2 linked regions of the Homo sapiens genome follow. The protein of the gene in region 2 interacts with the protein of the main gene of each other region in a biochemical or structural test. Each region holds a gene or a part of one and is shown on either strand. Other genes may lie near its edges.

Evidence for each region. Proteins that work in one complex are often made in the same cells at the same time.
Region 1: of the proteins of CDK1 (region 2) and GOLGA2, one has a biochemical effect on the other in vitro, tested with the Homo sapiens proteins (one study listed by BioGRID).

Annotation. Positions count from the first base shown.
Region 1 is NC_000009.12:128,262,508-128,266,007, reverse strand, and holds part of GOLGA2 (golgin subfamily A member 2), read left to right. Parts: coding exon 1-38; intron 39-126; coding exon 127-220; intron 221-316; coding exon 317-423; intron 424-2,915; coding exon 2,916-2,974; intron 2,975-3,303; coding exon 3,304-3,445; intron 3,446-3,500. UniProt on the Homo sapiens protein: Peripheral membrane component of the cis-Golgi stack that acts as a membrane skeleton that maintains the structure of the Golgi apparatus, and as a vesicle thether that facilitates vesicle fusion to the Golgi membrane.
Region 2 is NC_000010.11:60,781,478-60,784,977, forward strand, and holds part of CDK1 (cyclin-dependent kinase 1), read left to right. Parts: intron 1-3,227; coding exon 3,228-3,384; intron 3,385-3,500. UniProt on the Homo sapiens protein: Plays a key role in the control of the eukaryotic cell cycle by modulating the centrosome cycle as well as mitotic onset; promotes G2-M transition via association with multiple interphase cyclins.

The DNA of each region.
Region 1 (3,500 bases), on a different chromosome or scaffold from region 2:
GCCACCAAAAGCAGGGAGCCCTAAGGGAGCAGTTACAGGTGAGTGGAGGGTGTGAAGTTCCGTCCTGTCCTCTGGAGAATGTTTCTTTCCTTCTTTTTCAGCACTTGCTTGGGTTTCCTCCCAAAGGTTCACATTCAGACCATAGGGATCCTCGTATCAGAGAAAGCTGAGTTACAGACAGCCCTGGCTCACACTCAGCATGCTGCCAGGCAGAAAGAAGGTGGGAATCTGGGCACCCCATCATCCTTCAACCTGGCACTTTGACAGGCCTTTAGGGGGAGTCCTTTGGGCCCCATCTCAACCTCTCTCATTCCAGGAGAGTCTGAAGATCTGGCCAGCCGCCTGCAGTATTCCCGGCGGCGTGTGGGAGAGTTGGAGCGGGCTCTCTCTGCTGTCTCCACGCAGCAGAAGAAGGCAGACAGGGTGAGTCCAACTGCCTGCCCCGTCCCCTGGCATACTGGCTTCCCAGATGGAGGAGTGAGCCTAAAGGTCCCTTCTGCAGGGTTGACTGTCCTGCCTAGAAGGCAGCATGGGCCATTTATCACTGCTTTTGTGTGTGGTTGCTAGAGGCATCCTGGGGCTGAGTCAGCTGCTGTGGGTGAGTTTGGGGGCACTGTGGGGAGTGAACACTGGACGCAGAGCTCGGAGGCCAAGTGCCCGCTGTGCCGTTACCTGGCTGTGGCCTTGGTCAAGTCCTAGGTGGGGGAATATGGTACTTGTACTGTGAAGGTACAGAAGAGTATCTTTAGTATGTTACCATTTGTGTAGAGAGAGGGAACGTGTGTGTGTATGTGTACCTATGTACTATGACAATATACATAAAACGTGTCTGCATGGATTCATAACAAACTCAGGAGAGAGGAACAGCACGGCTGGAAGATATTTCCCTTCTGCCCTTTCGGAGTTTTGGACTATCTGAATATATCATCCTTTCAAAAACTGAACAAAAGATAATTTCCCCCTTCCTATTTGTGCCCCCACCCTCGGGGAACAAATGAGCTTAGAGAGTCAGATATACCTGGGTGTTCAAATCCGAGCTCTGTCTAAGTGATCTTAGGCAAGCACTTAACCTCTAATATTCCGTGTTGTCCATCTACAAAATAGAGGTAATAATAGTAACTGTCTCATGTGGTGGTTATGAGGATTAAATGGGATTGTTAGCATGGTGCCTGGTGAAGCATTCAATAAAGGTTCAAACAGTGGTAGTAATAATGATAATAACAATAGCAATATTATCTGATCTCTCTGGGCCTCTGTTAGCCAGCTGTAAATTCGATCTTGGCCAGGTGTGGTGGCTCATGCCTGTAATCCCAGCACTTTGGGAGGCCGAGGCAGGTGGGTCAACTGAGGTCAGGAGTTCGAGACCAGCCTGACCAACATAGCAAAACCCTGTGTCTACTAAAAATGCAAAAAATTAGCCAGGTGTGGTGGCGTGCCCCTGTAATTGCAGCTACTTGGGAGGCTGAGGCAGGAGAATTGCTTGAACCCGGGGGCGGAAGTTGCGGTGAGCTGAGATCGTGCCACTGCCCTCCAGCCTGGGTGACAGAGGGAGACTCTGTCTGAAAATAAATAAATAAATAAATAAATAAATAAATAATAACAAAAATTAGCCAGGCATGATGGCGCATGCCTGTAATCCTAGGTACTCAGGAGCCTGAGGCAGGAGAATCACATGAACCCGGGAGGCAGAGGTTGCAGTGAGCCAAGATGGCGCCACTGCACTCCAGCCTGGGTGACAGATGGAGACTCCATCTCAAATAAATACATATATACATACATACGTACATACATAAATTCGCTCTCTCTCCCTGTTCCTTCCACCCTTACCAAGTCCTTTTTTTTTGAGACGGAGTCTCACTCTGTTGCCCAGGCTGGAGTGCAGTGGCACCATCTCGGCTCACTGCAAGCTCTGTCTCCCGGGTTCATGCCATTCTCCTGCCTCAGCCTCCCGAGTAGCTGGGACTACAGGCACCTGCCACCACGCCTGGCTAATTTTTTGTATTTTTTTTTTTTTTAGTAGAGATGGGGTTTCACCGTGTTAGCCAGGATGGTCTCGATCCCCTGATCTCGTAATCCGTCCCCCTCGGCCTCCCAAAGTGCCAGGATTACAGGCGTGAGCCACCGCACCCGGCCACCCTTACCAAGTTTTTTTAAAAACAAATGAGACCAGCCGGGTGCCGTAATCCCAACACTTTGGGAAGTTGAGGCGGGCGGATCACTTGAGGTCAGGAGTCAAGACCAGCCTGGCCAACATGTTGAAACCCCCTCTCTATTAAAAATAAAAAAATTAGGCCAGGCATGGTGGCTCACGCCTGTAATCCCAGCACTTTGGGAGGCTGAGACGGGCGGATCACAAGGTCAGGAGATCGAGACCATCCTTGCTAACACAGTGAAACCTCGTCTCTACTAAAAATACAAAAAAATTAGCCGGGTGTGGTGGCGGGGGCCTGTAGTCCCAGCTACTTAGGAGGCTGAAGCAGGAGAATGGCATGAACCCGGGAGGCGGAGCTTGCAGTGAGCCGAAATTGCGCCACTGCACTCCAGCCTGGGCAACAGAGACTCCATCTCAGAAAAAACAAAACAAAACAAATTAGCCGGACATGGTGGTGCACGCCTATAGTCCCAGCTACTCAGGAGGCTGAGGCAGGAGAGTCACTTGGACCAGGGAGGCAGAGGTTGTGAGCTGAGATCTCACCACTGCACTTCAGCCTGGGTGACAGAGGGAGACTCTGTCTCAAAAACAACAACAGCAACAACAAAATGAGACCATGGGCTTGGAAATGCCTTGAAAACATGTCAAGTGTGATTGAGAGTGAGGAAGTGTTACTGTGGAGTACTTACTGTAGCTGTTGTTACTGGTTGGCCAGCTGCTCCTCTGCCTGCTATATCCTGACTTAACCTTTCTGTATTTACAGTACAACAAGGAGTTAACCAAAGAGAGAGACGCCCTCAGGCTGGAGTTATACAAGAACACGTAGGATGGGGGATGGTGGGATGGGAGGTCTGGGGGCCCTCAGCATGGGTGGTGTGCTGGGAGGTGGGGGGTACAGGTAAGCATGATGAGGTAGTCATAGAGGTGTGCATGTGTGCCCAGCAAAGCTCTAGTGCCAGCTGTGCCACTGACTCATGGTGTAGCCTTGGGTAACTCGTATCTTTTCTCTGGCCTGTACATGTGACTTTTGATTCCTGGGGTTCCTTCCAGTGCCACAGTTCTGTGGTTGTGGGGCAAGGGTAGAGGGTGGATCACCAAAGCAGTCCTTTCTGTTCTTCGTTCATTCCTTTCTCTACTGCCTCTGGCCATAGCCAAAGCAATGAGGACCTGAAGCAAGAGAAATCAGAATTGGAAGAGAAGCTTCGGGTCCTAGTGACTGAGAAGGCTGGCATGCAGCTTAACTTGGAAGAATTGCAAAAGAAGTTAGAGATGACGGAACTCCTGCTTCAACAGGCAAGAGGCTGCAGCCCCATGGGTGGTGGGAGCGCCATCCAGCTGGGGCCATGGT
Region 2 (3,500 bases):
TAACACGAAAGATATGATTCAATTGAACAATATTATGGAAAGCATTTGTTATGAGCGCTTTAACTCAGAAAACCTTCAAATGTTTATCATTTGAACATTGTATTATTACTATGAACACTGTCTCCAAAACCATCTCTTCACCAGCTCCATCTAATGCCACTTAACTCTTAATTTGGATTTCTTTGATGTCCTCAAATGTATCCTGTGATTTGGCCTATGAGTTTTGGCAATGGCTGTTCTTTCTACCTGGAGGCCAGTTTCTACTGGCTTCATTTTTTATCTCCTCCTCTAGTCCAAGAGCATTTTGTAGTTCCCTTTGCATCATACCATAGGATCCTTGAGGGCTGGGGTTTTTGTCTTGTTCACAACTGTTTGCCCACTGCCTATCAGTAGTGCCCAACCCACAGGAGATAGCCAAATAGATAATAATAACATCTGTTTTCCTTGTTTGCTCTTCTGAACACTGTTGTTTCTTTTTCTGGCTTGTATTGTCATTTCTACTCCAATGCCTGATTGTTTTGGATTATGTGCTGGATATTGTTTTGGAAAAAGGAACTTGTGGAAATAAATGGAGGCCTAAATGATTCACACAGAATTTTCTTTTGGTTCTGCCAGGTATCTGGTTAAAGTCTAGTATTAAAATACTACTTTAAAAGTTATATTTTTTCCCCTCAACTTTTCATTTTGAACATCTCCAAATCTATATTGAAAGATTTATGCAATGAACTTGTAATATTTTTACCAAGATGTTGGTGTTTTGTCATGTTTACTTTATTATCTGTATGTATGTTAGCATTATTTTTTATTTTTTTCATTGACATTAATTCTGATTTAGAACAGTCTCTGCCTTTTCTCTCACTTGACAGTGAGTCTTGACAACCTAATTCATTTCTTAAATACCTCCAGACTTTACTATTTTAAATATTACAAAAATTGTTCTCTGGTTTCTTCTGAATTACAGAAATCTGAGTGTTGTGATACTAATCTTTGAAATCCTTCCTGTCTTAAGAAAATGTCTTTTTGGATCATAGAGTAGCAGTATCCATGATGGTGGAACCTTGCCTGGCATTTAGTAGGCATTTGATAAATACTTGCTTAATGAAGGTTTTCTGCTTAAGGGCCTCCATAACTTGATCATATCCTACATATTTTTCTTTTGTTTCTTTTTGTTTCCTGGGATAAATCTTCCATTAGACTTAGACTGATCTCCTTCTAGGCTTACCTGTGTTAATGATTTTTGCCTCCTTAGTTATTTATACTTAGTTAAATACCCTAGAGTATTTCTGTCTTTAGAATTCTTAGTTCATTTTGGAGGATATGCCATGTATTTCAAAAATAATTTTGGATGATTAACCAATAGAAAGTTCTGCTTTGTTTAACCCCTCTTCCAGTAGTTCAGTGAGAAGTGATATTATCTCTAAAATTCAACACATTGAGTGTTGGCCACTGGTTAATTGTTAATTCTGAAAATTATTTAGGATTAGATGAGATTGTACACTTGAGGGAGAAGAAAGGATGCTAGAAAAAAAATTAGTTCTGAACTTACCATTAACTGTTTATGTGACTGTATTATGCAAGTGACTAATTTTCCTGAGATCACTTAAACAGTATGCCAGATGATTGTGCTACTGGTTTACCTACTTTTTGTGTTTAATGAGAGCTGAATTTACATCCAAAAAAATGTAGATTTTAAGTATATGAAGGTTGCCTACTTTTAAGGATGGCTGTGAGGATTAAATATAGTCAATTCTCCTTTAATGTAGAGTAATTTTGGTTATCAAAAAGTTATACATTAATCCACAATTTAATCAAAATAGTATAAAATGACTCATGTCAGTTTATAGTTTTAAAATGACACCAGTATTTAAGAAAACATAGACTTTTGTATAGAGGTTCTGTCAAAAAAATTAAGCTTAAGTAGCATCAATTTGCTACTGCTCAAACTGCTTAATTTTTTAACCAAGCAGTTGGTAATTTGTTGGTTGTTAGCCTTTTTTAAAATATTGCTACTTTCAGAGAAACTCATAAAAGCTATAGAAGAGGCCTTCTTCCTAGAACAGTGCACTCTAATCACTTTTGAAGTTAAACCAATGCCATGGAAAGCAAGCTATTCAACAAAATTTTGTGTGTACTTAAGGGGTTCAGGACCTCCCTAAACTCCAACTCGAGTTTAAAAAGACTTATCTAGGGAATTCAGCCACGTATATGACAGATTTTAGCTAGTCTTCTCCCTTATTGCCATTTCATTCCCTGTATCCACCTCCTCCCTCCCTGCTATCCCTTATAATTGATATTGTTGCTCATTACCTGAAGCCCATATATCAAAATCAGTATTTTCATCAACTTGCAAATGGGTGTGAGGCTTTCCTAATATGTAGTACATACAATGTGCTTTATTAGGTTTAATACACAAACACCTGGTCTTTTTTCTCCATTCTTTTGAGAATGAGGACTGTTGACTGTATTTTGAGATACAGATAAAAGTGTTTTGAAAAGCATAAAGCACTCTACAGTATTTTCTGAAAGTGTCATAATGACTTTTATCAGTAATATTTCCTGAGCCCAAATTTTTACACTATATTTTATGCCCACTTCGTTGCAGGGTAGGATATTGACAGAAGGTTAATTTTAATTTGCAAATGATCTATTTTGTTCTGTAAAATATGCTGGAACATTAATGGTAATTTAGATGTATAGAAAACTTGTGATGACTACATGAATTTTATTTTTAAGCCATACAGATTGTAGTTACTCTCAATTTCTTTTTGGAAGCAATGAGGGTATGAGTAAGATACTTCCCATATGGCCACACCAGACATTTCTATCATGTGACCCTTATGGGATTCAATGATCTTGAAATCCTTTAGTTTGACCAGGTGCGGTGGCTCACGCCTGTAATCTCAGCATTTTGGGGCGGCGAGGCAGGTAGATTGCTTGAGCTCACGAGTTCCAGACTGGCCTGGGCAACATGGTGAAACCCCATCTCTACCAAAAAGACAAAAATTAGCCGAGTGTGGTGGCATGTGCCTGTAGTCCCAGCTACTTGGGAGGCTGCCGTGGGAGGATCCCCTGAGCCCAGGAGGAGGAGGTTGTAGTGAGCCTTGATTGACCCACTGCACTCCAACCTGGACAAGAAAACAAGACCCTGCCATAAGGAAAAAAAAAAAGAAAAAAAGATCTTTAGTTTGTGGGGTGTGTCACACAGCATATTATTTACTTTGTTTCAGGTACCTATGGAGTTGTGTATAAGGGTAGACACAAAACTACAGGTCAAGTGGTAGCCATGAAAAAAATCAGACTAGAAAGTGAAGAGGAAGGGGTTCCTAGTACTGCAATTCGGGAAATTTCTCTATTAAAGGAACTTCGTCATCCAAATATAGTCAGGTATGTTGTAATATCTGAATGTAAGCCATTTTCTGCATGCTATTTCAAATATAAATTTCAACTTGGAAATCTTTACATTTGCTCAATTTCTTGGTCTAGCCTTACTGAGTGGACTA